Homo sapiens: one gene and its partner. The gene in region 2 interacts genetically with the main gene of each other region. Each region holds a gene or a part of one and is shown on either strand. Other genes may lie near its edges.

Region 1 (3,990 bases), on a different chromosome or scaffold from region 2:
AGCTAACTAGTAAAGATGCAGCTTTCATATTAGCCACGCCCATCCCTCTCTCCGCCCTCCACAAGCACGTCCCCGCAAGCGCGCAGGAACATACACGCGTACGCGCGCACACACACGTACACACGCGCGCGCCCGCGAACACATACATACAAGCAGGCGCGCCCAAACGCCGGCAGCACACAGGCGCGCACGCGCTTTTCAGGACTCAGGAAATGCGCTTTCTGCTCCCCGCGCCCGGTAGAGCTAATGCAGGGAAGTTTCTGGGAACATTCGACCAGCGTTTGTATTGGTGAGGTTCCAAGTTTCCTTTAAAATGATATGACTCCGCCCTTCTCCAAAACCGTTTGAGGAGAAATGGAAAAGGTTGGGCGTGGAGGTGAAAAGGAGCCCTGTTGTCAACTGGTCCGTACTCCACCTCAGGAGGCGGCCAACTTGGTGCGCCCAAGAATAAAAACATTTCCCTTGTAAGAACATGCAAGTGTTTAGAAACGCCCCCCCACCCCCCCGCAAGGCGTTTGTGAGGGGGACCTGTCACAGTTGAGAAGTCAGGATGGGCGTTTTCCTCCCAGGAGGTGCCCTATTAATTTGCGGCCTCGATAGTTGGTCAAGCCGGGATGTTAGCTGCGGAACCTCCAGGACCGAAGAGCGCCAATTCTCCTGAGTTCTCCTTGGTTTGGGTTTCCCACAAAAGAGTGGTCACACCAAAAACTCTGTCTCCACAAATGCGAAACGGGCTCGAAACTTTTTTTTCCCCACACGATCACTTCCCACACCACTCCCATCCCTTTATGTTTCGCCTCAGGAGTCGAGGAACTTCTCTGAAAACCAATTCTACGATATTCCAGCAGCTAAACACAGCCCGAATTCCCTAGAAACAGAGAGAGCGAGAGAAAACACTGTAAACCCCAATCACACGCTCCTGTTTTCCCGGTACTGAAAAAAAAAAAAAAAAAAAAAAGTGGGTCCGTGGCCGCGCTATGCATGCTAGGATTAGTAGTTCCTCCGTCCCTCATGGCGCGGGGTCAGGGCGGAGCTCAGGTTGACTCTGCAGCAGAGAACTACAATTCCCATGGGGCCGCGCGGCAGAAAGAAAGGGGCGGGACGGGAGGGGGCGCGTCGCGCTTGCGCAGGTCCCGGGGCCGGAGGGAGGCGGAGGCGTAGCGGTCCAACTGCTGAAGTCCCCATGTGACAGTGAGCGGGGTCCCCGCTCCAGGAGACGCTCGAGTCTGCGTCCCGGCCCTCAGCACTGTCCACTGTTTCGGTGCCAGCAGAGACCAGCAGGCCCGGGACAGTTGGTGTTTGGCCGTGCCGCTGTCTAACTTGGTGTGCAGAGTGAATTGCCGCTGCCGGAGCGGAGAGAGGCGGAGCGGCCAGGAGAGAGGGGATTTCTGTCAGCGCCGGCCTCGGGAGCTCGGAGACATGAACGGCTTCACGCCTGACGAGATGAGCCGCGGCGGGGATGCGGCCGCCGCAGTGGCCGCAGTGGTCGCTGCCGCGGCCGCCGCCGCCTCGGCGGGGAACGGGACCGGCGCGGGCACCGGGGCTGAGGTGCCGGGCGCGGGGGCGGTCTCAGCGGCTGGGCCCCCGGGGGCGGCCGGGCCGGGCCCCGGGCAACTGTGCTGCCTGCGGGAGGATGGTGAGCGGTGCGGCCGGGCGGCAGGCAACGCCAGCTTCAGCAAGAGGATCCAGAAGAGCATCTCCCAGAAGAAGGTGAAGATCGAGCTGGATAAGAGCGTAAGTAAACCGCGGGACCGCCCTGCCCTCCCGCCCCTCGGTGGGGCCCCAGGAGCCGGGCAAAGGCACGGGTTGTCGGCGGGGTCCCCCAGACAACCGCACTGGCTGCAGTGCGGTCTCGTGGAGTCTGTGTTTGGAAGCAAATAACAAAGTCGCTGCAACTCCTACCGCCACCCCAACACACACACCACACACAGGCTGTCGTTCCCCTCTTCTTTCCCACCCTGGCCCCCAACCTCCCGCTGCCTGCGTCTCTCCCGCGCAGTCTTCCCTCTTCCTTCTCCTCTGCGACCGGGACACGAAACAAAGGGGACCGGCGCACTGAGGGCCCAGAGTAGTTTTCTTGCAGCCCGGCAGCTCTTCTGGAATGGAGGCGCCTTTGTTTTGCTGCCCAAGCTGGTGTTTGGCCCCAGGCGGTACTAAATCCCGTCGTCTAGGAGAAAGCGGAGGACCTTCACGAACAAGGAAGATCCTGTTCTTTTCTGTGTTCCGTCTCCTCCGGAGCGGAGTGAGAGGGAAGCCGAGCTCACCCGCCGCCTGGCAGTGAGCCGGGGTTGTAAACGGCGTTTGCGCTGTCAGCTCCGAGGGCAGCTACTCCGATGGTGGGGAGCACGTAGCCTCTGCGGTTTTGCCATCCCCTTGGCAGCCATCAGGATTTTTTGCACGTCTTTTCGTTTGACCATCTATGAGGTTTTTAGAAACAGCCGTTGCTACTTTTGGGAGATCTGGCTAGCGGTAAATGAATAACATGGTATCGAGAACCTACCACAAGTCCTGCATATTTTTATCTTGCGCTTGGCTTAGAAGTAAATGTAAAAGCCTGTTAGCTCAGTCCGTGTTTGTTTCAAATGCTAGTCTACAGCTCGCAGGAGTATATGTAATTAAAGTTTTTGAAAAGTTTATTTGTGACACTTTTTGCCCGTTTAAACAGTTTTCAGTGTTATCCATGAGAAACTCTTCAGGTGAACTTGCATAATTTCAGATTGTTTTGGAAAAATGTGTTATAGATAAATACATTGATTTAATATTCAGAAAAATGTATAACTGAAATTTAAATATAGTTTTGAAGTCGATGGCTCATTTGTGAAAACGAATGGTTTTGTATCTGGACTATAATTTGGGTATTCAGTTAGAAAGACTGGAAAGCATACATTATATTACTAAAATATGCTGTTCTTTTAAGTAGAGAAAGTACTGTCAAGTAGCAAAACTGTGAGCAACATCATCTTTCCCCTCATCAGTTAAAAATTCAACATGAACTAATTCAGGTCATCCTTACTGCTATCTGTTTGTTTATTTATTTAAGACAAAGTCTCACTCTGTTGCCCAGGCTGGAGTGCAGTGGCGCGATCTCGGCTCACTGCAACCTCCAACCACCAGGTTCAAGTGATTCTCCTGCCATAGCCTCCTGAGTAGCTGGGATTACAGGCTACTGCCACCATGCCCGCCTAATTTTTTGTATTTTTAGTAGAGACGGGATTTCACTATGTTGGCCAGGCTTGTGTGGAACTCCTGAGCTCAAGTGATCCACCCGCCTTGGCCTCCCAAAGTGCTGGGATTACAGGCGTGAACCACCGCGCCCAGCCCCTCACTGCAATTTGATGACAAAACCCAGAGGGTTGGAATTTCTCATTCTCCTCTCCCTCCCTCCCTTACCCCCTTCCCCAGATGGAACCAACCCCTCCTTCCCCATCCACCATCCTTTTAACAGTATTCCAGACATCTTATGTTTTAGCGTATAGGATTTAAACGTATAAATATTCCATTATCTTAACAATGGCCCATCTTGGCTGTCTTTATTTTTAAGAACTCACTGTGGCATATGTGTTTTACTAATACATAGACACATTTTACTGTAATCATAAGCAGTGTGTAAAACTTTTCTGTTTCAGGCAAGGCATCTTTACATATGTGATTATCATAAAAACTTAATTCAGAGTGTTCGAAACAGAAGAAAGAGAAAAGGGAGTGATGATGATGGAGGTGATTCACCTGTTCAAGATATTGATACCCCAGAGGTAGATGGAAGTTTTTTATGCTTAATGTAAATCCTAAGTAGTGCATTCTGAAGCCTTTATAAAAAGATATGAACAATCTTTTAAGTGTTTAAAACATTTGAGAAATCTGAAAATGAAAGCAAAATTAAATATAGCCAGTTGACATGCATTTACACAGTTTGAATTGTTACATTTTAGATTGACAATTTTTGCAGCTCTGTTGTCACATAACTTACTCTTTTTTTGACCTCAGTTTATA
Region 2 (3,500 bases):
ACTGTCTTAATGATAATATCCATTAAAAAATGTAACTCAATATTGGCCGGGCGTGGTGGCTCATGCCTGTAATCCCGGCACTTTGGGAGGCCAAGGCGTGCGGATCATGAGGTCAGGAAAGCAAGACCATCCTGGCTAACAAGGTGAAACCCCGTCTCTACTAAAAATACAAAAAATCAGCTAGGTGTGGTGGCGGGCGCCTGTAGTCCCAGCTACTCGGGAAATCGCTTGAACCCAGGAGGCAGAGGTTGCAGTGAGCTGAGGTCACACCACTGCACTCCAGCCTGGGTGACAGAGCGAAACTTCGTCTCGAAAAAAAAAAGAAAAAAAAAAAGAAAAAAAAAATATATATACTGAATATTAACAAAGGTATTAACTGAATTATTTCAGCTACTTGTTAGAATACACTGGATGTGTAACTTTAATAATATATTAACATCATTATGCAGAGACTGTTAAACTGCAAGCCCGGTAAATACATACTTCAGGGCTAAAAGCCATTTAAAAATTTCTGATTACAATATATTCAGGCCGGGAGTGGTGGCTCATGCCTGTAATTCCAGCACTTTGGGAAGTTTAGGCAGGCGAATCACTTGAGGCCAGGAGTTCGAGACCTGCCTGGCCAACATGACAAAACCCAGTCTCTACTAAAAATACAAAAATTAGCCGGGCATGGTGGTGGACGCCTGTAATCCCAGCTACTCTTGAGGCTGAGGTACGAGAATCACTTGAACCCAGGAGGTGGAGGTTGCAGTGAGCCGAGATTGCACCACTGCACTCCAGCCTGGGCGACTGAGCGAGACCCTGCCTCATAACAAACAAAAACAAAACACAAAAAAACCCCAATATTTAAAGAAATAATGCATACAGTTGTCGGGGAATGAACAGTAAATTGTGGGAGTAGTAAACTGGGTAAATCACTTTGGAAAATAGTTTTCTATGAAGTTGACAATGAATACACCATACAACCTAGCAGTTTCACTACACTAGAGAATGTAGTATTTTTGAGACAGGATCTTGCTCTGTTGCTCAGGGTGGAGTGCAGTGGTGTGATCCTAGTTCACTACAGCTTCGAACTCCTGGGCTCAAGCGATCCTCAGCCTCCCAAGTAGCTAGGACTACAGGCATGCGCCACCACACATGGCTGATTTTTAATTTTATTTTTTGATAGAGACAATGTCTCACTGTGTGCCCTGAGTGGTCTTAAACTCCCAGGCTCAAGCGTTCCTCCTGCCTTGGCCTCCCGAAGTGTTGGGACTATGGGTATAGCCACTGCACCTGGCCAGTATTTTATTTTCAATAAGAAAAAAACCCTAAGGCACATATTAGAAAGTGCTAATAGCGTTAAGCCATTTGGGACTGTGAAGAAAGAGTTAATACAGCAGTCTGGGTGCTTAGCCCTGGAGTCTCTGAGGAACACTGGGACCCTATTACTGACCCTTGGCTAACTCCTGGGAACATGCACCTCAGAATGTTCTTTCTGTCACTGATGAACTGATGATTTTGTGGTGTGCACCTGGAGCAATGGACCGCGTTGTACCAGTTTGTCAGGGTTACTCTGCAGATATCAAGATTGATGACACGTACCTTCTTTTATTACTGGGTCCTCAGTTTGTATTACTGGGGTCCTCAAGTTACAGTTGCTGTGGCTGGTTGTCAGCAGGATGTGCCTATGCAACTAGTCCCCCAAGAAAGCCTCAGACCCCAAGACCCAAACAGGCTTCCCTGAGCAGAGATATTTCACACATGTCCCTGCAGTTTGCTGCCGGAAGACACATCCTGTGTGGCCTTGGACAAGACTTGTGCCAGACCTCCCTGAACTTGCCGATGTACATCTTTTTCCTGCTGCTTTTGTGTTCTTTACTGTAACAAACTTTAGCCACAAGTATAATTTGCTCTTGGGAGTCCTAGCAAAATCACCAAACTTGGGGTGGTCATGGGAATACCAAAACAGGAGAGTATATGTTTGACAAATTAAAAAAAGAAAAAAGCAGCCAACAGATTCCTGAATTAACCCTACCACTACTGCCTCTCTCCTCAAACAAAAAATACCCATTGCACACACCAACACATATTACTTTTACCAAAGTGGAATACTGTAATTACACATAGCAGTTAGTCACTTAATTTATCTTGGATACCTTCCTATACCAGTGCCTACAGATTTTTCTCATTAAAAAAAAAAATTTTTTTTTTAAATTTTTGGTAGAAATGAGGTCTGTGTTTTTCAGACTGGGCTTGAACTCCTGAGTTCAAGCAATCCTCCCACCTTGGCCTCCCAAAGTGCTGGGATTATAGGCGTGAGCCATGGCACCTGGCCTTTCTTATTAATTGCTGAGTAGTATTTCAAACATACCATGTGCTTAACCAACTTTCTATGAACCAACATCTGGGTTACAAGGTTGATCCTAATTTTTCAATTCTGCAATTACGACTAAAATCCTTGTGCACATGTGGGTGGGAAGTTCTGTAGAATAAAGTCCTAGAAGTTAAATTACTGGGCCAAAAGCTAATAGTATAGTTTTAATAGCATATGCTTTGAAAGAGACATTTTCCCTTTGACACCAATATTGGAATATATGATATACCTACCACCCTTGTCACTGTCACAATGGGAAGCATCAAACTGTGCATCATCATTGGGAATATGTACTCGAGCAACCACCAGATGATTCTGCTCATCAGACGTATGAGTCCCCAGCACTAGCCAATGAAGGGCATAATCTTTTCCTTCAGGTCTGTTTAAGAAAGAAAATAAGTCACACTAATCCTACAAGAAATCTCCAATTGCTAACAAATTCAGTCTAGTTCCCTCAAAATACATTCATATTTCTTTAGCAAATATATACTTAGCATCAACTGTGTATCTTCTCCCCCTCTGGTTACCAACTTTACAATCCCCACATATGCAAATATAAGAAAATATTCTAGCTACAACATGCAGAGGGCTTGCTTCTTTCCCAAAGAGCCATCCTCCTGTGCCTCAATTATCAGCGTGAACACTACCTTTTATAGAGCAGCACTCCGGGGAAGGTAGGCCCAACTCAGTAAACACAGACAAACATCTACACAGGAATCCACCAACAATCCCCACACTCATAAATCACAACTTCCCACCTAAAGAAATCTTCTTCCCACCTAAAAATATCTTATACACTAGATGTTTCTTATTTCCCAATAAGAAATTCTACAAGGTAGTATGGACAGAAAGTGTTGAATCAAAAAAACTTAGCTTAAATCCTGGATCAAACTAAAATGCAGTTGCTTAAAACACAACCTCCCTGGGGCCTCAGTTTCTTCACTGAATAAAATAGGCTATAAGTGCAAATGGCATGATGTGAAACTCACTGACGTTTATGATACCTAAGTTTATGAAACGAACATTCTCAATTTTACCGAGGTATCTTTGTTACCTTGTTCTGTGGAAACACCTTGAGGCTGAAGAACTTGCCCAAACCTCTTGGCACCTTGGTCCGAGCAGTGATTTTTGCATCAGTATC

The links.
Region 1: changes in RBBP7 (region 2) and SAP30 together harm fitness less than expected from each alone (positive genetic interaction), as found in Homo sapiens cells (one large-scale study listed by BioGRID).

Annotation. Positions count from the first base shown.
Region 1 is NC_000004.12:173,369,764-173,373,753, forward strand, and holds the start of SAP30 (histone deacetylase complex subunit SAP30), read left to right. Parts: upstream 1-1,190; 5' UTR 1,191-1,419; coding exon 1,420-1,734; intron 1,735-3,626; coding exon 3,627-3,752; intron 3,753-3,990. UniProt on the Homo sapiens protein: Involved in the functional recruitment of the Sin3-histone deacetylase complex (HDAC) to a specific subset of N-CoR corepressor complexes. Capable of transcription repression by N-CoR.
Region 2 is NC_000023.11:16,860,363-16,863,862, forward strand, and holds part of RBBP7 (histone-binding protein RBBP7), read right to left. Parts: intron 2,739-3,500; coding exon 2,593-2,738; intron 1-2,592. UniProt on the Homo sapiens protein: Core histone-binding subunit that may target chromatin remodeling factors, histone acetyltransferases and histone deacetylases to their histone substrates in a manner that is regulated by nucleosomal DNA.